Homo sapiens: one gene and its partners. The protein of the gene in region 5 purifies or fractionates together with the protein of the main gene of each other region. This does not show direct contact. Each region holds a gene or a part of one and is shown on either strand. Other genes may lie near its edges. The genes, in order: SUCLG1, HEATR1, FASTKD5, PFKL, BCL2L14, RABL3 and PANK4.

Region 1 (2,626 bases), on a different chromosome or scaffold from region 5:
GGGACCTCAAATTCATGACTCTGCTGGTAAATGGTAAATGGCTTGGGCAGGGGAAAGCCCACCATTCATCTTAGGAAAACCAACACAAATATTAAACCATGATTGAAACCACTGCATTCTCCTTTGAGTTAACTTTCCATACAAACTCAGGAATACAACACTGTGCCAATGTCCGTATCTGTTCAATATAAAACTTCCACTTCACAAATACACATGACGCTATCATTTGAAAAGTAAAAGAGCATACTGGAAAATATGATTTGCGATAATAATAATTTAAGACACAAGACTGGGTTGCTTTACTTCAACCTAATATTATGCCTTAATTCATTATTAGTTCACCCTTAATAAATGTGCTAAAAGAAAAAGATGAGGTGGGAAGTATACTGGAAAGGACCTAGGACTTAATTTTCTAGTAACAAAAGCTGCACGACCTTGGACAAGGCTTCTTGAGAACCAGACTTCTGCTTCCTCATCTATGAAATGAAATGGCCAAACTGGATTGATGCCCAAAAGCCCTTTCCACTCTGGAATTCTGTGTCTAAGAGGGAAGATCAGAATTGGTTTTATTCAGCAAAAATCCATTCTAATGTACAATCTCTATATACTAGATTCTGAGGTTTAAAAAAAAAAAAAAAGAAAATATAAAAATGTCTGTACTCTAGACATGCAAAGTAGTTGAAGAAATAATATAAAATATGTATATACCTCAATCCATTAAGAGATACCATAGGCCAGGCATGGTGGCTCAGGCCTGTAATCCCAGCATTTTGGGAGGCCGAGGCGGGCAGATCACGAGGTCAAGAGATCGAGACCATCCTGGCCAACATGGTGAAACCCCATCTCTACTAAAAATACAAAAATTAGCTGGGCATGGTGGCTCGCGCCTGTAGTCCCAGCTACTCGGGAGGCTGAGGCAGGAGAATCGCTTGAACCCGGGAGGCGGAGGTTGCAGTGAGCTGAGATCATGCCACCGCACTCCAGCCTGGCGACAGAGCAAGACTCTGTCTTAAAAAAAAAAAGATACCATAAACTAATATATGAATATATGATTAAGTTTCATAATTAATGGTAATATCATGTTCATAACAGAAGTCCAGAGATAATAAGGAACCAGGTAAAACAGAGAGGACTGAAAAGGCAGAACTTGAGCACAAGTGGAACCTGAGAGCTTTCACTTAGGTACCATCATCTTCCCCTAGACCAGCAGTTCTCAGATCATTTGGTCTAGGGATCCCTTATACTTAAAAGAATTATTGACGATCTCAAAGAGCTTTTGTTGATATGTATTATATCTAATGATATTTAGTATATTAGAAATTAAAACAAATTTTATAAATATTTGTTAATTCACTTAAAAATAACATTTTAACACTTTAAAAACCATTCTAGTGAGAAGAGTTGCGTTATTTTACCACTTATATTTTCAACTCTTGAATGTTTAACTTAATGAAAGACAAATGGATTCTGATAAATGCTTTTGCATTCAATCTGTTGTAGTGTGTTATTTAAGCTGAAGTATAAAAGGAAAATCCAGCCTCACACAGATATGTAACTGGAAAAGGCAGAAGTATTTTAAATGACTGCCTTACAGATAATTGGGAGTATTCTTCTTTGATACTAACCAAATCTCTCAAGTGGTAATTTCTTACAGGTTAGGTGCAATGTTGGAATCTGAAACCATAGCAGTGAACTTTCTGTCCCTTGTTAATTTAAAACTCATTAATCTGTCTTGCACTTTGAGTGATCTTTTAACCACAGTGATTTTGTAACATGCATTCCTCAGTTAGGAAATATGTATGGGTTCACTGAGTTATGCAGATCTTCCAAATGCTGACATGTTTCATCATTTAATAACAACAAATCAGTTATCAGTATCACCATCAAGCTCATTAGAAAAGCCTCTAGGTAGGAGGAAGCTGTCAAGCTCACAGTTGCAGATGCAAATTTTCTAAAATTTTAAATATTCACTTGAAAGTTCAAATGTTATTATTAGCAACAAATACTATCAACTGTTTCCCTTGACACAGCAGGTTTACTTTGTTCATTATTGAGAAGAGATCTGTCTGAATTACCAGTTCGTCTGCCAGTCATTCTTTCAAGTAAAATTGGTGTCCCATGAAAAGGGCAGCTAGTTCAGCTCACAACTCAATTGTGACAATGCTTTACTTCCCATTTTATCACAAAATACTGACTCCAGGGTCATAATTTAATAAAATTAATAATTTGCATTGCTTCATCAAGGACACTCATAAGTGAAACTGGCTTTTTTTTTCTTTGCACTGTGAGTAGTACATGGCAGTGAATGACTGCTACTCTGGTTCGACTGACTGCCCTGATTCCCACTAAGATGCAGCATGCAAGGAGCTACATGGTCAGACACTGCTTACTCCTGCCTCATCTGCCACCTTTCCTCCCTTTCTCCTTATCTTCCAGTAACCCCAGAATGCTCTAGCTCTGTGCCTTTGCTGAGAATGCTCTCCACCCTCCTTGGATGCTTGGCAAACTCCTACTTAACTTTTAAGATCTGACTCTAGCTTCCTCTTCCCCATAAGCCTTTTCTATCTCTCCCTCCCACCCTCCCCACAAATGCCCTCATAGGTGATCATCTCATCAGTGACCCTGT
Region 2 (3,958 bases), on a different chromosome or scaffold from region 5:
TGGAAGACGTCAGTTCATCCTAGTTCTAGCGCATACCGGTGTTTTGGAAACAGATTAGCTATATTCATACATAAGGATACTCTTCCGCAACACTATCTGTAGTGAGGCCAAGACCAGTGGTTGCGGGAATCTTCGCAAACAGGCAAGAGACAATTTTTAGGGGCGATGGAAACTGTCATTTTGACTGGGGAGGTCATTACACCTATACATGCATTTGCTAAAAGTCATCAAACTCTTCCACTGACGTGGGTGTAACCATTGTTTGTAAATTATACCTCAACAGGATTCGATTAATTTATTTATTGAGACAGTCTCGCTCTGTGGAGTGCAGTGGTGCAATCTTGGCCCACTGCAACCTCCGACTCCCGGGTTCCAGCGATTCTTCTGTCTCAGCTTTCCTAGTAGCTGGGATTACAGGCGCCCGCCACCACGTCCGGCTAATTCTTTTATTTTTAGTAGAGACGGGGTTTCGCTATGTTGGCCAGGCTGGTCCCGAACTCCTGACCTCAGGTGATCAGCTCGCCTGAGCTTCCCAAAGTGCTCGGATTACAGGCCGCGCCTGACTATGATTCGTTTTGAAAGAAAAAAATATATGCCATTTACCCCTCGGGAATGGAAACATAGAGGAGTGACAAGATCTCCCCCAAGCTCTGGGGCGGTGGAGTCCAGCATTTATAGATCGGTTTGCACTAGGAGCAGAAGCTCCTTTCACGACAATCTCGGCCTCTTCCCACTTTGTAGAGTGAGTAACAAGCTCGGAGAGATGAAATAATTTGGTGGCGTTAACCCGGCCGACAGGCGCCAGCGCCAGGATTTGAACCCAAACCACGTGACTTCACAACCCATAGCTTTCAACACTACGCGGTGCTGCTGGCACCTAGTAAAGGCTGGATCACTACTGAATGAATGATTCTGGCTACGGATCCTTAAAGCCCACAGAAGGCCCATCCAGAGACCGAAAGCTTCAGACACAAGCCGCAGAGCAGACCGCTAAACCGGAGCTACAGAGGCGAAGCTCAGACTTGAGCCTGAGTCCGGCGGGCTGAGGGGCGGGCTTTCGTCTCGGGAGGCGGAGCTGTCTCGTCGCATTCCCGGCAAGCTTGAACCTCTTCACTTGCCGTAGCGCCTGCAGCAGGAAGTTGCTCTACAGCATGCCTTAGGTTTCCGGGTGAGGGTTGGGCTCCTTGGTACCATGTGGGAAGCGCTGTGAAGAGTTGTTGCCTTCCAAGATATACCCAAATTCCCAGTTCCAGGTAAGCGGCACAGAGCCGCTTGATGTGGCTGCGGATGGGGGCGGCATATCGAGGGAGGGTAAGAGTTTTCCGGATATCTGCGGAATCAGGGTTGAAGGAAAGCCTTGGCGCGGTCGCCGCTACTGTAATTAGTTGTTAACGCTGCTGCCATCGTCTTTGCATCTCCGGGGTCCACAAATCTCAGGACACCCGCGTTGTGTGTCCATGACGGTGCTGAGTGCAGAAGAGAATTGTTTGTTTACGAGGCGCCTTATAATTTCGTAGAAACTTATCAAAGTGCTTACGTTTTTTTAGCCCGTGTCATTAAAACTCCGCTGGCGTGAAAGATGACGTCCTTAGCCCAGCAGCTGCAACGACTCGCCCTCCCTCAAAGTGATGCCAGCCTCTTATCTAGAGATGAAGTTGCTTCTTTGTTATTTGACCCTAAGGAAGCGGCCACAATCGACAGGGACACCGCCTTCGCCATTGGTGAGCCATCTTTTAACTTAGAAAAGCTCTTGGAAGCGTTTGTTTTCTGGATGTTACTGTTTTTTTTTTTTCCCCTTGTTTTCTCTTCTGTCCCGTCCTCTTCCTTAGCAGTTTCTAGCATGTTGATGTATATTTTTAAGGGAAAGAGAACATAACAGTCAGGTGCTTGGTGCTTGAAATGTTTATGAGTAGAGGTATCTGGATTTCACAGATGAAGAAACAAAATTAGAGAGGTCAACTAATATGTCAAAGAGAAGAACAGCTAAAAGGGGGATGGAGGCAGTGACTGGGGTGACGGAGAAGTCCTCTCAGAGGACTGGCCTAGTTATTGTAGGGGATATCCAAAAAAAAAAAAAAAAAAGTGTTCCCTGCCACGAAGTACTTTCTGTTCTAGTAGATGAGATAGGATTTACTCTAAAAGTTGAAAACTAGAAATCAGTGTTTGGGACTGTATTATAAATTATATGTACTTAAAGAATTCAGAAACTTCTTAGGGGTAAGTAAAACTGTAAAAGAGGGGTGGGATGAATTTGCTTACGAAGAATTGTTAAATAAACTGGCCTTTTTTGAAATTTAGGATGTACTGGCCTGGAAGAGTTGCTTGGAATTGATCCTTCCTTTGAGCAGTTTGAAGCACCGTTGTTCAGTCAGCTAGCAAAAACCTTGGAGCGAAGTGTTCAGACCAAAGCAGTAAACAAACAGTTGGATGAAAACATTTCATTATTCCTTATTCACTTGTCGCCTTACTTCCTGCTTAAGCCAGCACAGAAGTGTCTGGAGTGGTTGATTCACAGGTAGCTAATAGAATTACAGAAATAACTATGGGTTAATCACTTTGGTCTTGTAAAAAATTAAGTAGTTGAGAACTTATCAAATTAAAGCTGAAAAATTAGGTATATTAAGAGATTGATACAATGTCCATTGTGTGAGATAAGCATGCTCTTCTGCCTTTAAATTCTTTTTTGTTGATAGTGAAAAGTAGAACTACTGGTGATTTTGAGTAAATGGTCTAACCTCATTAGTTTTTTTTTGAGATAGAGTCTTGCTGGGCACTCAGGCTGGAGTGCAATATTGAAATCTTGGCTCACTGCAACCTCTGCCTCCCAGGTTCAAGTGATTCTCCCACCTCAGCCTCCCAAGTAGCTGGGATTACAGGCACCTGCCATAATGCCTGGATGAGTTTTGTGTTTTTGTAGAGATGGAGTTTCACCGTGTTAGCCAGGCTGGTCTTTAACCCCTGACCTCAGGTGATCCACCCGCCTCGGCCTCCCAAAATACTGGGATTACAGGTGTGAGCCACCTCGCCCAGCCTAACCTCGTTAGTTCTGAAGAGCCCATGCTACTTTGCCATTACAGCTTGTTCCTGCACACTTGAGGCAGTGAGTACTAAGCTGCTTTCTTGGCAAAATAACAAGATGGTTGGGGAAGCAGGCAATGTTATCCTCTGAAATACCATTGCTTGAGAAAAACAATGATAGCTAATGTGTTTTTGAGCATTTATACACTAGGCCCTGGTAAGCACTTTATCTGCATTATCTCATTTAATTCTCACAGCATTCCTCTGGTGAGATTATTTGTATTATCCTTGTTTTACAGTTGAGAAAACTGAGGCTTAGAGGGATTAAGTTTCTTGAGTCACACAGCTAGTAAGTGGCAGAGCTAGGATACAGCTGAAGTTTATTTCCAAGGTCTGATCTTTTATCTGCTTTGGGAATTGTCTCAGTAAGCTTAGTTTATTTTCTCACATATTGGTGTCACATCACAGCATACACATTTTTGTTTTATTTATTCTCCCAATATGTATGTCTTTTTTTTTTGAGACAGTCTCGCACTGTCGCCCAGGCTGGAGTGCAGTGGCACGATCTCATCTCACTGCAACCTCCACCTCCCAGGTTCAAGCAATTCTCCTGCCTCAGCCTCCCAAGTAGCTGGGATTACAGGCACATACCACTACGCCCAGTTAATTTTTTGTATTTTTTTTTTTTTAGTAAAGATGGGGTTTCATCACGTTGGCCAGGCTGGTCTCAAACTCCTGACCTCGTGATCCACTCGTCTTAGCCTCCCAAAGTGCTGGTGTGAGCCACCACAGCCACTGCACACGGCTGTCTTTTTATTTTTATTTTATTGAGTGTCAGGATTTCACTCACCCAGGCTGGAGTGCAGTGGTGTGATCGTGGCCCACTCGATCTCCAGGGCTCAAATGATCCTCCGATCTCAGCCACCCAAGTAGCTGGGAT
Region 3 (3,500 bases), on a different chromosome or scaffold from region 5:
AAAATTACCCAGGTGTGGCAGCACACACCTGTAATCCCAGCTACTCAGGAGGCTGAGGCAGGAGAATCCCTTGAACCCAGGAGGCAGAGGTTGCGGTGAGCCAAGACCGTGCCACTGCACTCCAGCCTAGGCGAAAAAGTGAGACTCCATCTCAAAAAAAAAAAAAAAAGATTTAATTAGTTATACCTACGATAACCCTCCCTGTTCTTATAGCGCAAAACTGTTAATTCCAAAATTCTGTCATTCTAATGCTGTTCTTTTACTTTTTAGAAGATGCCTACTCTCCTCTTCAGGAAGCTTATAACAGAATTTGAGTCACTATTAGAGAGTAGTCACAGAGTAATGGTGTTATTAGAAAGTATACTAAAAAACTCACTCATTTTGGTGGGAGAAAGCAGAAGGTTGAGGGTCTGCTCACTGTCACTTCACGGGTGGGAAGCAAAGAGTACCCCAAAGCTGGGCTCAGGGTTCAGGGAACGCCAATTGACGCAACTGCCCCGCTGACATCTTCTGGAGAAGGCAGCTTAGCAATGTTTCCAGTGAGTCTTTATTCTGCCTGTGAGCAGTATAATGCCCATTTTTCTCCCATGGCAGAAACCATGAGAGACTATGAAATTGATTCTGCTGTGCTCTCGCTTTCCTTAATGCTTATTCTTTTTCTTTCCACTTAAGTGCCAAAGCCTGACAAGCAAGACCCAAGGAGACCTGAGTTGTCAACTGATGTACCAGACAGGGCTGTTGCTGCAGAAAACTCCATAAAAGTTCCAAGGGTGCCAGAATGACTTTCTGAAATGCCTGCCTAACTCTGCTGTCAGCCACTTTCTTCCAGAGCCCATAGCACATCATCATTTAGTTCATCAAAGAACAGCAGGGCAGGTCAGTGGCTCTGTTCCAGTAGCCCAGCTACACAGGCTTCTCTAGATGGCAGGAACATATGTATGAATTTCTGTGTGAATCAGAGCAGAATTCTCTCACATTAAATTTTTATACACTTGGTTCTTTACTGTGGCTTGTGGACCATTCTTTTTTTCTTTTTTGAGACAGTCTCACTCTGTCACCCAGGTTGGAGTATAGTGGCATGATAACTGCAGCTTTGACCTCCCACTTCAAGCAATCCTCCCACTTCAGCCTCAGCCTCTTGAAGTAGCAAAAACTACAGGTGCACACCACCAAACCCAGTTAGTGTGTGTTTGTGTGTGTGTTTGTGTGTGTGTGTGTGTGGAGATGGAGTCTCACAATGTTGCCAAGGCTGGTCTCAAACTCCTGGGCTCAAGTGATCCTCCTACCCTGGCCTCCTGAAGTGCTAGTATTACAGGCATCAGCCACCATGCCTGACCACCTGTGGACCATTCTGCCCACCAAATTTCAATCTGTGGTTCAGATCAAGGGTGAGCAGACTATGTCCTGGGGCCCAAATCTAGCTCTTCACATGTTTTTGTAAACAAGGTTTTTTCAGAACATAGCTAGGCCATTCATTATATATTGTCTATGTCTGCTTTCCTGCTACAAGAGCAGAACTGTGTAACTGTGGCAGATTGTATGGCCTGCAAAGCATATTTAGTGTTTGGTCTATTACATAAAAAGTCTGCTGATCTCTGCTACACACTATTTCTATAAATGCAGATAGCCAGCTTTTTAAAAATTAGAAAAACTTGGCCACGCCTATAATCCCAACACTTTGGGAAGCTGAGGCAGAAGGATTGCTTGAGGCCAGGAGTTTGAGACCAGCCTGAACAACACAGCAAGACTGTCTAAAAAATAAAATAAAATAAAAAATAAATTAAAAAAATAAAAAATTTTAATTAAAATTGGAAAAACTATAGAAAAATAGTACTAAAATAATGTTTTTCTTTAATATTTAGATGATAATTGAAGATTACAGTCCTCAAAATAGTCATTAGGAAATCCAATTAATACTACAGCACAGGAAAGGTGGGAACAAAAGAGACAGCAGGATGGCCAGGCGTGGTGGCTCATGCCTGTAATTCCAGCACTTTGAGAGGCCAAGGCAGGCAGATCACTTGAGGTCAGGAGTTCGAGACCAGCCTGGCCATCATGGTGAAACCCTATCTCTACTACAAATACAAAAATTAGCCAGGTGTGGTGGCATGAGCGTGTAATCCCAGCCACTCGGGGGGCTGGGGCACAAGAGTCGCTTGAACCCAGGAGGCGGAGGTTGCAGTGAGCCAAGATGGTGCCACTGCACTGCAGCCTGGGTGACAGAGACTCTGTCTCAAAAAAAAAAAAAAAAAAAAAAGAACCAAAAAAACAGAGATAGCAGGTAACAGAACTCTCCAGCTGACAGAACAGGGCTTTTAAGAAGACCTATTTTTGGCTGGGCACAGTGACTCATGTCTGTAATCCCAGCACTTTGGGAGGCTGAGGCGGGTGGATCTATGAGGTCAGGCATTCGAGACCAGCCTGGCCAACATAGTGAAACTCTGTCTCTACTAAAAATACAAAAAATTAGCCAGGCGTGGTGGTGGGCGCCTGCAATTGCAGCTGGGGCACCTGCAATCCCAGCTACTCGGGAGGCTGAGGCGGGAGAATCACTTGAACCTGGGAGGCAGAGGTTGCAGTGAGCTGAGATAGCGCCACTGCACTGCAGCCCGGGCGATAGTGCAAGACTCTGTCTCAAAAAAAAAGAAGAGGAAGACCTACTTTCGAATTTGGAATTTAATTTAATCCACCACAATGTGCAACTAAAGCCATATACTGTTCAAATCTGTAGTCTTCATCTCATTTGAGGAAGGAGATCCTGGCCAGGCACAGTGGCTCACACCTATAATCCCAGCACTTCAGGAGGCCAAGGTGGGCGGACCACTTGAGGACAGGAGTTCAAGACCAGCCTAGCCAATATGGGGAAACGCCATCTCTACTAAAAATACAAAAATTAGCTGGGCGTGGTAGTGCGCCTGTAATCCCAGCTACTTGAGAGGCTGAGGCAGGAGAATTGCTTGAATCCAGGAGGCAGAGGTTGCAGTGAGCTGAGATCATACTACTGCATTGCAGCCTGGGCGAAAGAGCAAGACTGTCTCAAAAAAAAAAAAAAGTAGATCCTAAAAAAATAGATTTAAAGGTCCCATTTTTTAAATAAAATAGCTGTGCCATAGTAAAGCGAAAAACAGAAAATGTCTGTCTAGAAGGAGGCTGGTTTACAAGATAAATGTGTGGCAGGCATCAACACATGAAAAAGTACACACTAATATTGAGTGGAACAAATAGCACATAAACAAGAATTAACAAATATCTCTATAAATGATATTAATTTTAAAACATTAAATAATTAAAATTACTTCAATTAATTCTACCTAAGAGTACTTAATGAAATTACTATACGTGGTCTGGAAATAAAAGAACCATCTCCTAGAACATCAATGTTTGGTGCAGCTCCAGTGTTTTGAATTCATGTGACACTTTTTGATTTGTAAAAACACAGGCTAAGATCCAAGATGGAAATAACCAGAGCTATGCCTTAGGGCCTCCTCTGTGCCAAGGCT
Region 4 (3,500 bases), on a different chromosome or scaffold from region 5:
GCGGATGCCAGCTCAGCTGTGGGCTTCTGCTCCTCCCTCCGCCTTCTCCCCAACCAGGTGTCAGGGCCCTGGGGGCCAGGAGGGCAAGTGCCTCAAGCAGGCAGGGGGTCAAGGGATAGTGCGCGCTGCGGGGCGCATGAACATCCCCACTCTGGCCATGGCGGGCTTCTAGCCTGACAGCCTCCCTTCCCCACCAGCTGGGCTGGGGGACAGGTGCCCCTGCCCCATCTCAGGGGCTGATCTGAGGGACCACAGAGCTACTTCCTCCGGCTCAGGCCAGGCCAGCCTGGCCCCCTCTGGTTGTACCAGCCCTGAGCTAGGAACAAGGAAAACAGGAAAATGATCCCAAACCCACAGCCCCACCTGAGCAGGAGGCCACCAAACACAGGTCTGTCTGCAAAACTCAGGATCCAATACAGAGCCCAGGCGCCAGCCAGGCCCCTGCCCCACTGGGCGGAGGGGCAGGCAGGTATGGCCAGCCCAGCAGTCCCCAGAGACCCCACAAGGCCAGTGGCTCAGTTCTGCTGGAATCAGTCTCACAGACACAACCTCCTCCTACCCTTGGAATCTTCTAGAAGCTGTTTGCCCCCCTCTACCCACTCTGTTTCCGTCTCTGTCCTCCTAGGCCCAGCTCACCTTCCCCTCCTTCCCCTCTAGCCCCGCCCCCTCCTCTCACCCCTGCAGGCCTGGACCCAGGCTCAGGGCCCTCCCTGCTATGCTGTGGGCTCTGCCTGGGGGGATAAGAGTAGCCTGTTCTGAGCCCTCCTTTGTGTCAGAACTGAGAAGGGTTTTCACCTCCAAGGCCACCCTCCCTTTCTGCCCTAACAATAGCCCCAAGGAGAAGGGATCGGTCTCCCTGCTGAAGGAAGCCAGCGCTGGGGGCTCAGAAACCCAAAATGCAGTCTGATGTGAACTGACGCAGCCGCAGGTCTCCCTGACCTCCCCCTTCTGCCTCTCGACCCTCTGCCTCCTCCAAGCTCAGGATGCAGCTGCTCCCTGAAGCCCCCGAATCTGCCTAAAGCCCATAGCTGCTGGAGAAAGGAACAGTGACGGCCAGTCCCCTCCCTGAGTTTCCATGCACTGAGGTCATCGTAGGAAGAAAGACCTGTGTCTGCCAACACACTTGGGCAGGTGGTCACCAGGGCTAACAGATGCTGTCCAAGCCCATTGAATCCCCTAAAAACCATTCATGGCCGTGCACAGTGGCTCGCGCCTGTAATCCCAGCACTTTGGGAAGCAGAGGCGGGTGGATCACCAGAGGCCAGGAGTTCGAGACCAGGCTGGCCAACATGGTGAAACCCCGTCTCTACTAAAAATACAAAAAACAGCTGGGCGTGGTGGTGGGTGCCTGTAATCCCAGCTACTCAGGAGGCTGAGGCAGGAAAATTGCTTGAACCTGGGAGGCAGAGGTTGCAGCGAGCCAAGATTGTGCCACTGCGCTCCAGCCTGGGCAACAGAATGAGACTCTGTCTCAAAAAAAAAAAAAAAAAAAATTCCTACCCCCCTAGAATCATCCAGGCTGCCCATGCCCCTTTCCCTGGGAGGAGGGCAGGTCAGCATCTTCGCCCTACCTCTCCATGCCTATTCACAATGAATGCCAGCACCTCTGCCCTATTAATCCGCTTTTCGCAAGTGGATTCTTCCAAGAACCTTCATGGGACGGAGGGGAAGTCTTCCCTGGGCCGCTATATCAGAATGTCTCATCTCAAAATCTGCCTCTTAGATGTGGATGTTTCTGAGCTAAAGCCCACTAGGCAGCAGATTCAGGGAAGCTCTCAGCCTTGCCTCCCTTTGAGAGGAAAGCAGCACACAGCATCCCAAGACTAAGGCTCCTCCTGTTACCGCCTGGACAGGATGTAAATGCCCCTCACAGCCCTCAGGACCCAGAGACAGCCCCAGGACCCGCGCCCACCCACTTCATTCTTTTTCCCATAAACTCACCCTCCTGCATTCCCCCACCTCCGAGGGCCTCACGCTGCGTCCCTGTACCCCTCGGCTTCTCCATGTGCACTGGTCTCTGCTGGGCTCTGCAGAAGCCAGGACTCTAGGCACGGCAAAGTGCCTCTTCTCCCCTTTTCCAGGACACGCCCTGCACCGATGAACCTGTTTTCTGTCTTTTGCCACAGGAGTCTTTCCCAACCACAAATGTGTGGGGGTTCCGGAAAACCCTAATTTCTCCCCTTTGCCACTTAGAAGAAGAAACTGAAGGTCGAGCAGGTGGCAGGAGGGGTTTGTACGGACACAGCCCAGCCTGCCTAGAGAGGCCCCCACACCCAGCTCCCCAGGGCTCTGAGACCTGCTTCCTAATCCAATACTGGCAGGGCCCCAGCCTGGCCACAGGGAGAGGACGGGCCAGCACAGACTGCCCACTCACTCATTCATTCACACAGTCCTGCAGAGGGAGGGCTGGACAGGCTGCTGTTCCCTGGGGCCAAGATGGGGGAACTGAGACCCAGGGCGGTGAGTGGTCAGCAGCGAGCAGTGAGCAGTGAGGGGGGTGGGGCTGAGTGCCTGGGGCTGCAGAGCTGGGGTTGCTACATTTTATATAAACAGCTACATATTACATAAAAAGTGGCAACAAAATAACAAAAGACCTTGTCTTGTGGAATGTGGAAAACCACCTGACAAGGCAAGAATGCAGCCTGTGAGTGCGTGGTGTGGCCCAAGTGTGTGAATGCGCCTGTGTGTGCACATGTGTGAGCGCAAGTGTGGGTGTGTAAATACCCAGGACGGAGGGCGAGCCCCAAATCTCCCACGGGGACTGGGGCTGAGGCAGTAGGGCATCCGCTGCTCCTGCGGGGACACAATGAACATAGACACAGCAGAGCTGCTGCCAGCGGCTGCCCCCCGGGTCTGGGTGGTGAGGCAGGAGGCTGGGGAGGACAAGGGCAGAGGCGGTGAGGTCCCTGGCCCCCACTCACAGAGGCCTCGGGGCGGGACAAGGGCCAGGCTGGGGGACACCAGGCAGGGGTGTGGTGGGTGGGGCCTGGCCCGTCAGCGATCACTGTAGGCAGGGCCTCGACTCCTTGTCCACCCAGCTCCTTCCCTGCCCCCAGGCCCGTGCTCTGCAGCCTCTGAGCCTCCAGCCGGGCTGAGTCCCAAGGCAGTAGGTCTTCTTTCTGCAGATGCCTTTGGCCTGGCCCCAAGCTCCCCCTCACACTCCCCAAGACCACATACCCATCAGCTCCTCCAGGCCAGGACCACCCCGTCTCCCAGTGTGACCCACACAGAACACACCTCGGCATGCGCCTCAGGAGGTCCCCACTCCCTGCACACACACAGCCCACCTTGGCCTTACCTCGTAGATGAGGAAGACTTTGGCACCCACATAAATGCCCATGCGCGTCACAGCCCGGACAGCAGCGTTCATGCCTGTGGAGGTCAGGGCAAACCTGTCAGTCCCACGCTGAGAAGCAAGGCCCTGGACACCCTCCCCATCTCAGAGGACAGGGGGTAGGGGAGGCCTGGACACCCTGTCCATCTCAGAGGGCGGGTGGTGG
Region 5 (3,500 bases):
ACGCTTACCCATCCACCGTGCTGCTGGATCCATGGCGAGAAGTTCTCTTTCAGGTACTTGGTGCCAAAGCCCAGGACCCTGTTCATCGGGTGGTTGTCAATAGCTGTGAGCTTGGCCGTGACGTCTATTACAAGGGCAGCCTTAAAGCCCTGAGCTTTGACCTCTGATTCTCCCCTGGGGTCCACACCCATTAGGACCTGGTCTGTGATGGTCTTGAAAACAGAGTAGGACAGCCCATCCTGGAAGTGGCCCATCAAAGCCTTATCTTTCTTCAGCTGTGTACAAAAGAATAAGCACTCAGTACAGTAGCTTGGCTCCACGAGGCAGACAGAAGTTCATTCTTTAGCTCAAATGCAGGCCATCAAACCATCCTGTGGAAAACCCTGGATGCTGGTGTCAACCAAGGGAATGGGGATGAAGGCAGTGTCCTGCAGAACCAGAATGGGCATGTACTGCTCGGTGAATTCATTTCATCAGCACAAATACATGTATAAAATGGAACAGTCAGTTCATTTGACATTTAACAAATATTTCCTGAGCACTTATAATGGGCAGGTAGTATGGATGACTGAGATGCGGGTCCTCACTCAAAGGGCTCACAGTCTAGTGGGAATTGCAGAAAAATGTGATGTCCTTTGCTAGAAGTAGTGTAAGGGACAGGATCTGAAGCTTAGGAATCACTGTCTTGGCTCAAACCCCTGGGTCCACCTCTTACTTAGCTATGCAATCTTGGGGAAATTAACCTCTCAGATTCAGTTTGTCATCTCTAAACTAGGATGGTGATAGTATTGATACTATAGGGTAATTGTTTTCTTTCTTTTTTTTTTTTTTAAGACAGGGTTTCACTCCCATTGCCCAGGCTGGAGTGCAGTGGTGTGGTCTCAGCTCACTGCAACCTCTGCCTCCTGGGCTCAAGTGATTCTCTTGCCTCAGCCTCCCAAGTAGATGGGACTACAGGTGCATGCCACCACACCTGGCTAATTTTTTTCTATTTTTTTGTAGAGATAGAGTTTCGCCATGTTGCCCACTCCTGGGCTTAAGCGATCCACCCACCTCAGCCTCCCCAAAGTGTTGGGATTACAGGCATGAGTCCCTGCACCCAGTCTTCATTTTCTTTTCTTTTCTTTCTTTCTTTTTTTTTTTTCTGAGATGGAGTCTCACTCTCTTGCCCAGACTGGAGTGCAGAGGCGCGATCTCAGCTCACTGCAACCTCCGCCTCCCAGGTTCAAGCAACTCTCCTGTCTCAGCCTCCCAAGTAGCTGGGATTACTGGCACACACCACCACACCCGGCTAATTTTTGTATTTTTAGTAGAGACAGGGTTTCATCATGTTGGTAAGGCTGGTCTTGAACTCCTAACCTTAGGTGATCCACCTGCCTCGGCCTCCCAAAGTGCTGGGATTACAGGTGTGGGCCACTGTGCCCGTACCCAGCCTTCATTTTCTTAAGAAACTTTTATTATTATTGTTTTTTAGGGACAAGGCTTACTATATTGCCCAGGCTGGTCTCAAACTCCTGGCCTCAAGCGATCCTCCCACCTCGGCCTCCCCAGGAGCTGGGATTACAAGTGTGAGCCACTGTGCTTGGCCCTATACTATAGGGTAGTTGAACACTTTATAGTGCTGGACATAGAAGAGGTGCTTTGGAAATGCGAGTCATTTTTCAGGATGCTACGGGAGCATGGAGGTCAGGGAAGACTCCCTTGCATGCAATGTTCACTTAAAAAAACTCCAATTCATTGATTTCTTTCCCATTATTCTACCCTATTGATTTTACCTCCCGGCCTTCCCTTGAACCTGGTATCTCTCTGCTTTACCTCCTTTGAACTACCACGCCTTTAAAACAAAATCAATGCTGCCTCTTCTGCTTTTGAAAAATCAGGGCTCATATCAAAAAGCTATATATCATCTTCATTTAAAGCATTCTTGCAATGTCTGTTAATATGCTGGTTGTCATGTGAAAACGGAAATTTCTGAGTGAGCAGGGACAAAATATTTATTTGAAAATCCTCTAGTTCTGTCCTAGAGGAATGATAAGCCAAGCGGGTTTTCAACAAATATTGTTTCTAAAAGGGATATCTGGGGGATGAGTCAGATGCGATTGGGAGATTTTGGCAGACCTGTCTTTTCCCTGAACCACGCCCACCCCCACCGTCCAGGCCCCGTCTGGGTTGTGACTCTGCAGGAGGCATGGCCAGCCTCCTCCATAACAGGGAACAGACTCCTCTTCATCAGTTTCCCAATGGAGGAGGCCAGGCTCAAAACCCTAGCAGGCAGCCAAGTGGGGACTGTGCCAGAACAGTAAAAGAATCAAACGCCACAAAGACAGGGCTTCCACTGGCACCTCCTCACCCCTCCCCTGCCTGTCCCTCTCGGGTGCACCTGGCTCTTTGGCCTCTCCTGGAGGTGTAGGATGGGCCTTCGGGCTGTGTGTGCTCTTGGGACCAGCGGCTCTGCAGATCCCCTGCAGCCACACACACGGCACTCTGCAGTGGGAGCTTGGCACCCGCCCAGCACAAGGTCACACCTACCATGTGTCTCTAGCAGAGCTCCCTACTGGGGAAGCATGTAAAGGAAATAACAACCAAGGCTTTGCCATAAGCAATGTAAAATGTCCAAACTCCTTAAGAGAGAGCACCAGGCAAAGTGAGGTTTTTGAAAGTGGTAATTTGTGGGGGTGAAAATGAAACCATCGCTCTTCATAACCTGAGATCGGTGGCCTTCGTCCCACCTCCAGCACCCCCACTCCGCCTTTCCCACCTCCCTGACCAATGACCACAAGTCCCTGCTTAGGGAAGCTGGGAAGGAGGTTGCCGTGAGAGCCACAGAAACTCTGAGTTGTAAAGAGCCCTTGAGGTTGTCTAAAGGACCCCTCGGAGTTCTGTGCTGAAATGCTAACTGGTATTGGCACCTACTTGCAATTCTTCCCGTGACAGGAAGATCATTCTCTCACAAGGCACCCGTTGACTCTCATGGGCAGCCTGGAATGCCTATTCTCCAGGAATGGAGGTTCATTCTTACCATAAGGAGAAATCAATCACCCCATACTAGGCATAATTTGTGTATCCATGACACTAGCTCTGGAGAAATGCAGGGGTGCCCTTAAATCATGATCCTGTTCCATCTCTTGCTTCCTCTGCACCCCTCTCCACCCTCTACTTGTGGTCCCAAAGCTCACACACCCCGTTCTCTTTTCTTTAACCTAATATCCCTGGTTTTCTCGCTGTTTCTCATTCTGTCCCATCTCCCAGGTGCTTCGCCCTCTGGGTCACCAGCCTCTGGGCACACTTTTGACAAAGCTATAGACAGGAGCTGTTTGTCTTCCTGCAGAACCTCCCATCCCCACCCCCAGGGTCTGACTCCCTCCCCACAGATTCTGGAAAAACAAGGGTCTATGTCTGCAAGCCAGCCCCTGATTGACAGATTCTAGAGACTACTCAGTCGTCTGTGGGTTATGGACCCAGGAGGCATAGAGAAGCCCTTTTGACTCTGTTGAAGGTTT
Region 6 (3,500 bases), on a different chromosome or scaffold from region 5:
CCCTCTCTAATAGCCTAGGCTAGTAATCCTTCAGAAGGAAATAATGAAGTGTCTTTACTTCTCTCCCTTAAGATTAAGATATATTATCATATCACCCTGACTCCTTTCATCTCAGCCCCACCTTGATTCTTCTAGCACATGTTCTACAAAGCAATAACTCTCAGCCCAAATGAAAGAGAAAGAATAGGGGAAAAGGGTACTCAAATGCCCTTAAAAGCTCAAAAGTCTTACCTAAAGATCCTCAGTAAAGTCTTCCCTGTCCATCTAATAGCCAACTTAGGCCTTTGTAATTCTTTTACTCCCCCGTCCAAAATTCTCACCCATAGTTTTGCCATATTTATAGCCTGGGGAAAAGGAAAGGGAGAAAATATATGCCAGTTTTTTGCCCTAAAATGGAGATTTTATTCTGCTTACCACCAGTCTTTACTGTCAGATTACCTGAGTGCAAATTCTGACTTACCATGTGCCCAAGGACAAGTTACTCTACTTCTCTGAACTTTAGTTTTCTCTTGTGTATAAAGATAATAATAATTCTTCATAGGACTGTTCTGAAAATTAAATTAGATAACACATGTAAAGCACAATATTTAGTACATTAGTACTGAATAAATATTAGCTGTAGTCTTTAATGGTGGTTCTTTATTCCTTTTTTTAAATCTGTGCCACTGATGCTGATTAAAACCCCTCATTGAGGAAGGAAGAGTGGGTACAATTGGATATTAGGGCAAGTGTCAGATCTCTATTAGTTTCAGACACCAGAAGAGATGCAGGTTTATCTAAGCTGGCTGGAACAAGTCAGCTATAGCTTGTACAAGCCCTTTAGTTACACAGATGGCTATAAAAACTGTAGAAGCCAGCTAATTCTACCTCTTCTGCTTTTCTTTTTCAAATTGACACATACCACCTCTTGAAGATGGAGGAATCATTGGTTTCATGTCCTATTCACAATCTGGGTAATATAGAAAAGGGTTGGGAGTTTGAAACCTGTAGTGTTTTGACCATAAGGTGATATCCTAAATTCTAGTGGGCATCAAAGTTTTTCCTCTTTTGTCTATATCTTGCTGTAATAATTAATTCCCTGATTTTCCTTTCTATCTAGGATTTTAATTGATTCTCTTCAGTTGTATTTTAGTGTATTTCTGGGCCTCGTTACATTTTGTTATTTTTCTCAATCTATCAAAATCCGTGCATGTACTTTCTACTATCCATACTTCTTTACTATTTAATGTCTCACCCACTCTCTTATAGTGGCATATTTCTTTTGCTCTAATAACTAAATCTCTTACAGGTAGGAAGCTTACATAACTAATCATTATTCAAAGAACTAGAAAATTAGACATTTGAATAGATTAGTCTCAGATGATCTACAGGACACTATTTTGTCAGCTAAAGAATAGCAATTGTATCAAATCAGTACTATTTTAGTAGATTTTCATTACCTAATATTACTTTTAGTGAGTATAAGTAATATATGTATGTACTGGTATCTATGGCAGTACTGTGTACAGTGAAGAAACAACATAACTTTTTGAATGAATAATTTCATATGTACTTGAAGTAGTTTTGATTCTCTTGATTAATAAAGTGGTTCTACAGGTAGGAACAGGCATGGAGTAGGCACTCAGGAAGTGTTGAATGAAGTAAAGATCTGCTAAAAGTTTAATGGGATTTCGTCAGCCCTTGTAAAATAAAGAGTTATAAAACTGACAGAGAAAGGTTTATGGCTATTTATAAATATTTGTAGAGAAAATTTTAAAATAATTGTCTCTGAGTTGTTAGTCATACTAGAATGCTAGATTCATTAAGCAACCTAATGCTTCTGTTTACTAAGCTTCATTTGGCCAATTGTGAAATGAAGAGGAATTGTTAAGGGATTAACATTGTTTTCTCTGATTATTTTAGGTATTATTTTCGTACACGACTTAACAAATAAGAAGTCCTCCCAAAACTTGCGTCGTTGGTCATTGGAAGCTCTCAACAGGGATTTGGTGCCAACTGGAGTCTTGGTGACAAATGGGTGAGCCAATTTCACAATTGGTTTGAAAGATTGTAGCAATCACAGGAATGTACTTCCCTGAATAACACTTTGTAAAATGTTTGATTTGCAAAGATTTTTCTTTCAGTGTATAGATTATCTTTTCCTTTTAACAGTATCTTTCACAAAGCAATAGTTTTCATTTTGATGAAGTCTGATTACTCTTCTTTTCTTCTATGGATTGTGCTTTTGATATCATGTCTCAGAACTCTTTGCCTAATCCTAGATGATGCAGGTTTTCTCTTATGTTTTCCTCTACAGATTTTATGGTTTTACATTTTTATAGTAAAACATTTATATAAAACATTTTAAGTTTTATAGGTTTGCATTTAGATTTATGATCTAAGTTAGTTTTGTACGAGATGGGAGGTTTTGGTTGAGGTTAACGTTTGCATATGAATGTCTAACTATTCCAGCACCATTTATTGAAAAGATATCCTTTCTCCATTGAATTGCTTTTGCTCCTTTGCCAAAAATCAGTTGACCATATTAGTATGAGTCAACTTCTGGACTCTAGTTCTGTTCCATTGATCTATGTGTCTGTCCCTTCACCAGTACTACGCTGTCTTAATTATAGTCTTAAAATTGAGCAGTATGATTCCTTCTACTTTATTCTTTTTCATAATTGTTTAGCTATTATAGTTTATTTGTTTTTCCACATGAATTTTTAGAATCAGCTTGTCTATATTGACAAAAATTTTGGTTGGATTTTTATTAGAATTGCATTGAACCTATTGATCACATTGGAGAGAATTAACATCTTTATTCTGTTGCATCTTCCAGTTCATGAACACAATATATCTCTAAATTTATTTAGATCTTCTTTTATTTCTCTTACCAGCATTGTGTAGTTTTCAGCATACAAATCCTGTGCATGTTTTATTAGATTTATACCAAAATATTTAATATTTTTTAAGCTATTGTAAATTGTTTTTTTGTTTTGTTTTGTTTTGTTTTGAGACTGAGCCTTGCTCTGTTGCCAGGCTGGAGTGCAGTAGCACGATCTCAGTTCACTGCAACCTCTGTCTCCCAGGTTCAAGCAATTATTGTGCCTCGGCCTCCCAAGTAGCTGGGATACCTGGCTGATTTTTGTATTTTTGGCAGAGACAGGGTTTCACCATCTTGGCAAGGCTGATCTCGAATTCCTGACCTCAGGTGATCCACCTGCCTTGGCCTCCCAAAGTGCTGGGTTACAGGCATGAGCCACCATACCTGGCCATAAATGGTATATTTAAACTTCAGTTTCAAATTTTCCATTGCTAGTATAAAAAAAAATAGAATTGATTCTGAGTGCTGACCTGTATCTTGTGACCAGAGTTTTTTAGTACAATCCTTAGGATGCTCTACATAGACAGGTTTATTTCTTCCTTTTCAATCTGTGTGCTTGTTGTCTTATTTCTTGCCTTTTCGCACTGGCAGCAACTTCCAAAAGGGTACTAACTAGGAGTGATAAGAGTGAATATCT
Region 7 (3,953 bases), on a different chromosome or scaffold from region 5:
TCAGGGACCCCTCGGAATCACAGCAAACCGCGCCTGGCAAGGCAGTGACAGGAGTGCCTCCTGGCGGCTCTCCGGGCTGCCCGCGCTCGGCCCTGAGGCCAACAGCTGGTGGGGGAAGGGGGCTTCCCAGAGGTTTGGTCACCTGTGCTCTTCACATCTGAGCCATGGCCTTCTAGTTCTCCCTGTCCCACAGGCCCCATCCCCTCTGCCATTCTCTCTGGTCCTGTGTTTCCTCTTTGGGCACCAATGGAGGGCAGGACAGCCAAGCAGACACCACCGCCCCGTGGCCCCTTCCTGTCTCACCTGCCTCTGAGGAACCCTCCCCACAGCCCGCAGAAACCTAAAATCAGATCGAAGCTGCAGTATGTTTTGAGAAATACAACGTCCCTGCTGCTTTCAAAGAGGTGAATCTGCTCAGCAGACATCAGCGTCCCATCGAGAGGAAAACAGCTTGCCAGAACACAGGGCAGGTGAGCTTTCCTAGATCCAGACACAGGCAAGGGAAGAGGAAATGGGAGAAGCCTGCTTTTAAACAACACTGTTGACAAGCACTTTGGCTTTGAGGGTTCCTGGGTTGAAGACACCCCACCCTGAGCGTGGCCTCCCAGCAGCTCGGTCAGGAGTAACAAACAAAAGGTCTCTCAGTATCAGTCAACAGGTCCTCTTAAGAACCAGAGACACAGGACCCAGACGCAGGGAGAAACTTTGAAGAGGGGAAATAAATACCAGCACTAAACAGACCTCTTAGAGTATCCTTCTACCAAGAAACCCCCTGGGCTCAGCCTGGAGAACAGGCTGGTACTCCAGGGCCCTCTAGGGCTGCGACAGCCCTTCCTGGACAGCCCCAGCTCTGCGGCTTCACTGGCCTCTCGGGGCCACACAGAACATCCACGGTGAGCCCTGTTCTCCTGGCCATTCCCCAAGTGACTTATGCAGGTCAACTGCAATTGCATTTCAGAAACATTTAATCCCGACTTGCTTCCAGTAACAGAATCCCCCAGTGTAAGGGCAGCAGAACCTTGCAGAGCACACGCTCTACCGGGCCTCAAGGTCTCAGAAGGCTGGGAAGCATGGCTGGGGAGCCTCTGGTGAGGCCTGCGGTAGACAATCCCCTAGGCTAGGGCTGCAAGCTCAGCACCTGCAGCCCAATAACCAGTCAGTCCCAAGTCCTATCAGCGGTCCCTAAAGATGCTACTCACACGTTCTCATACCTGGCACCAGGCCACACCCCCTAAGAAGCATTGCCTCCCATAAGCTCACTGAAAGGTGGGAGCCAGGACCTATAGCTACTTCCATTCTCATCGCCCCCCACTTCCCTAGAGGACACCCTTCCCTGGCTGGACATCTCAGAGAGATGATGACACCAACAACCCCGAGGACACCACAGCAGCAAACATGTCAGATGCACCAGGAGCACACAGCTCAGAGGGAATGGCCTGGGTCTCTCTGAGTCCCAGCTTTTCCAGGGAGGTGGGAAGCAGTCAGCGGCAGGCCCATTCATCCCAGTATTTACTGGGCGGCAAAGACAGGTTGGGCATCCTTTTCGGGGGCTGGGGCTACAAGACACACCGCTGCTCTTGTGGGATTCACACACAAGCAGACTCAGCCTACGACCGAGATGAGTGCTAAGAGGGAGAGGTATGTGAAGCCGCAGCGGCTATTCAAGGGGGGTTTCTCCAGGTGAAGCTGCCCCCAGGAAGCCCTCATGCCTGAAACATGGGCAGAGTAGGAGAGCAGGGAGTGGCTGGTTCAAATCCTGGTTCTGCCACTTTCTAGCCCGATGACCCTGGGCAAATTAGTTCACCTTTCTGGGGCTTGGTATCCTCATCTGCGAAAAGGGAGTAATTCGCGTTCCTCCCCTAGAGGTGGCTGGGAGGTGTCCGGGAGTCAGGAGCGTGGGAAAAAGGTCTAGAACAGAGCCTGGCCCGCCGTCATTACTGAGAGCACAGCCATCAGGCAGGAGGGTCTGCAGCGGACCCTGGAGAGGCCAGGGCAGAAGTGCAGGCCGCCTTAAAGGCCACGGAAGGCACGGGTGGCTTTTAAACCAGAGGCACGAGTTCCCAGGTCCCACGTCCACGGCCGCCTGAACTCACGCCCGGCGTCCACTCTCCAGAGAGCGGGGCCTGTGCACGGACTGTCCGGCCCGCGGGCCACAGCTGGCCACGCCGCGGGAACGCGCGGCCTTTTCGGGGCCACTCTGCCAAGGGCTTCCCGCCGAGCTCGTCCTCGTCTCGACCAGAACTAAGGACCCCAAATCTCAGGCCAGCCACCAGCCAAGCGGCGGAGCCGGGGCGCCCAGATGCCGATGTGGCCGAAGACATAAAATTCCGCCGACCCTCCCACCTCGCGGCGGGTAACGCTGGACCCCGGCCCCCAGCCACCCAGGACGGCCGCGCGAACTACCAGGCCCGGCAGGCCCCGCTCTGGTCCCTGCGGCGCCTGCCGGTAGCTGTAGTCCGGCCGTCGCCCCGAGCCCGCGCATCAGCGACCCTGCGGACTACAAGGCCCGTGAGGCTGTGCGCGGGCCCGCGGACTACAAGGCCCGTGAGGCTGTGCGCGAGGCCCGCGCCCCCGCCCTTCGTCCTTCCCGCCGCCCCCGCTCGCCGGCCCACCGCCGGCGCCCCGCCCGCCCCCGCAGCCCGCGCCCGGCGCCCGGCCTGCGGCTACCTATGTCGATGGCGAAGCGCTTGGCGTTCTCCAGGTTGCGGAAGATCTCGTCGGGGGGCAGCGTGATGCTCTTGTCCAGACTGTCCCCGCTGCTCCCGCTGCCGCTCGCTCCACACTCCGCCATTTTGAAAGTGCCCGGCCAGCTCATCAGCCATGGAGATATATGCGCATATATTTGACTGCCAAACGCCCCCTCGCATAGATTATGTTAATGAGGCGCCGGCCCCGCCCCTTCCCTCCCCCACCCCCGGCCTCTGAGGTCTCGGCCGCTACAGGGCGAGCTAGGGCCAGTGCTGGGCAGGGGTCCGAGAGGCCCGGGGCTGCGGGCGGGCGGGCGGTTATCCTCCAGAGATCGCGCATCAGCACAGAACATCTGGACTGATGTTCTTTTACCGCGCTGTCCACAGGCTTAACTCAAGTGCTCTGAGCCCTGCTGAGGGAGGCCGCAGAGGCCGCCCACCTGCTTCTAAGGGGGCACGTGGGTCTGCAGACTGTCAGAGAGCCCTGCCCTTCAGCGAGTGCCTGCTGTAAGCTTGGCCCTGCACGCCAGGGCGAATGTGATGCGCTCTTTGCTAGGGTGACTCAATCCTGGCTTCCCAGGGGCGTGGGACTTTCAATGTTAAAAGTCCCATGCAAACCAGAGGAGTGGGGAACCCTGCCCCACCTGGGAGGAGCCCCAGCCTGGCATGCACCTGCGGGTAGGGAAGATGTGTGCTGTAATGGCGATCCGTGGAAAGTGCTGTGGTCGGGGGAAGCCAGGCAGGCTGCCTGTGGGCAAGACAGGTGCCTGGGAGGCTGCAGGAACAAGCCTTGGAAGCAGCTGGAGCCAGGACAGGGGTATAGGTGGGGCAGGCCAGGGTTCCAGGGTGAGTGGCTGGGAAGCCCTGCTGGCATGAAGAGATGCGTCTTCTCCAGAGGCTCTGGGCGCCTTGGGAAAAAGCCCAGTGTTGGAAGCAGACAGATCAGCCCCTCCCGGGTAACCCGGGGTCATTACTGCATGTCTCTGGCCCTCAGCCTCTGTCTGCACGTGGAGAATGCCACCAGCTGCCTGGCAGGGCTCCTGGGAGCACAGGCCTGTGGGGCGGCACAAACTCCAGGGATAATGCATCTGTGTGCGCAGGGCAAGCCTTCAGGGAGGAGGCATCCTTGCCTGTGTCTTCCAAGGGGGTGGGTGTGTGGCTCTGGAGGGGGAGCCTGCCCCAGGGAGGCCTGGGTGGAAGAGTGGAGCACACCCCAGGCGGCTTAGACCTCTGGCAGCTCAGACCCCTGGCAGCATGGTGTGCCAT

What was found.
Region 1: the proteins of BCL2L14 (region 5) and SUCLG1 purify together in Homo sapiens (affinity purification with mass spectrometry; one large-scale study listed by BioGRID and IntAct). This does not show direct contact.
Region 2: the proteins of BCL2L14 (region 5) and HEATR1 purify together in Homo sapiens (affinity purification with mass spectrometry, with the first as the bait; one large-scale study listed by BioGRID). This does not show direct contact.
Region 3: the proteins of BCL2L14 (region 5) and FASTKD5 purify together in Homo sapiens (affinity purification with mass spectrometry; one large-scale study listed by BioGRID and IntAct). This does not show direct contact.
Region 4: the proteins of BCL2L14 (region 5) and PFKL purify together in Homo sapiens (affinity purification with mass spectrometry; one large-scale study listed by BioGRID and IntAct). This does not show direct contact.
Region 6: the proteins of BCL2L14 (region 5) and RABL3 purify together in Homo sapiens (affinity purification with mass spectrometry; one large-scale study listed by BioGRID and IntAct). This does not show direct contact.
Region 7: the proteins of BCL2L14 (region 5) and PANK4 purify together in Homo sapiens (affinity purification with mass spectrometry, with the first as the bait; one large-scale study listed by BioGRID). This does not show direct contact.

What each region holds. Positions count from the first base shown.
Region 1 is NC_000002.12:84,425,655-84,428,280, forward strand, and holds part of SUCLG1 (succinate--CoA ligase [ADP/GDP-forming] subunit alpha, mitochondrial precursor), read right to left. Parts: intron 1-2,626. UniProt on the Homo sapiens protein: Succinyl-CoA synthetase functions in the citric acid cycle (TCA), coupling the hydrolysis of succinyl-CoA to the synthesis of either ATP or GTP and thus represents the only step of substrate-level phosphorylation in the TCA.
Region 2 is NC_000001.11:236,601,717-236,605,674, reverse strand, and holds the start of HEATR1 (HEAT repeat-containing protein 1), read left to right. Parts: upstream 1-1,158; 5' UTR 1,159-1,253; intron 1,254-1,547; 5' UTR 1,548-1,579; coding exon 1,580-1,721; intron 1,722-2,298; coding exon 2,299-2,515; intron 2,516-3,958. UniProt on the Homo sapiens protein: Ribosome biogenesis factor; required for recruitment of Myc to nucleoli. Involved in nucleolar processing of pre-18S ribosomal RNA. Required for optimal pre-ribosomal RNA transcription by RNA polymerase I.
Region 3 is NC_000020.11:3,149,866-3,153,365, forward strand, and holds part of FASTKD5 (FAST kinase domain-containing protein 5, mitochondrial), read right to left. Parts: intron 1,003-3,500; exon of another isoform or gene 673-1,002; intron 1-672. UniProt on the Homo sapiens protein: Plays an important role in the processing of non-canonical mitochondrial mRNA precursors.
Region 4 is NC_000021.9:44,306,553-44,310,052, reverse strand, and holds part of PFKL (ATP-dependent 6-phosphofructokinase, liver type), read right to left. Parts: intron 3,373-3,500; coding exon 3,299-3,372; intron 2,794-3,298; coding exon of another isoform or gene 2,725-2,793; intron 1-2,724. UniProt on the Homo sapiens protein: Catalyzes the phosphorylation of D-fructose 6-phosphate to fructose 1,6-bisphosphate by ATP, the first committing step of glycolysis.
Region 5 is NC_000012.12:12,091,439-12,094,938, reverse strand, and holds part of BCL2L14 (apoptosis facilitator Bcl-2-like protein 14), read right to left. Parts: intron 429-3,500; coding exon of another isoform or gene 348-428; exon of another isoform or gene 276-347; coding exon 9-275; intron 1-8. UniProt on the Homo sapiens protein: Plays a role in apoptosis.
Region 6 is NC_000003.12:120,704,517-120,708,016, reverse strand, and holds part of RABL3 (rab-like protein 3), read left to right. Parts: intron 1-1,902; coding exon 1,903-2,017; intron 2,018-3,500. UniProt on the Homo sapiens protein: Required for KRAS signaling regulation and modulation of cell proliferation. Regulator of KRAS prenylation, and probably prenylation of other small GTPases. Required for lymphocyte development and function. Not required for myeloid cell development.
Region 7 is NC_000001.11:2,523,797-2,527,749, forward strand, and holds the start of PANK4 (4'-phosphopantetheine phosphatase), read right to left. Parts: upstream 2,801-3,953; 5' UTR 2,792-2,800; coding exon 2,668-2,791; intron 2,397-2,667; exon of another isoform or gene 1,805-2,396; intron 1-1,804. UniProt on the Homo sapiens protein: Phosphatase which shows a preference for 4'-phosphopantetheine and its oxidatively damaged forms (sulfonate or S-sulfonate), providing strong indirect evidence that the phosphatase activity pre-empts damage in the coenzyme A (CoA) pathway.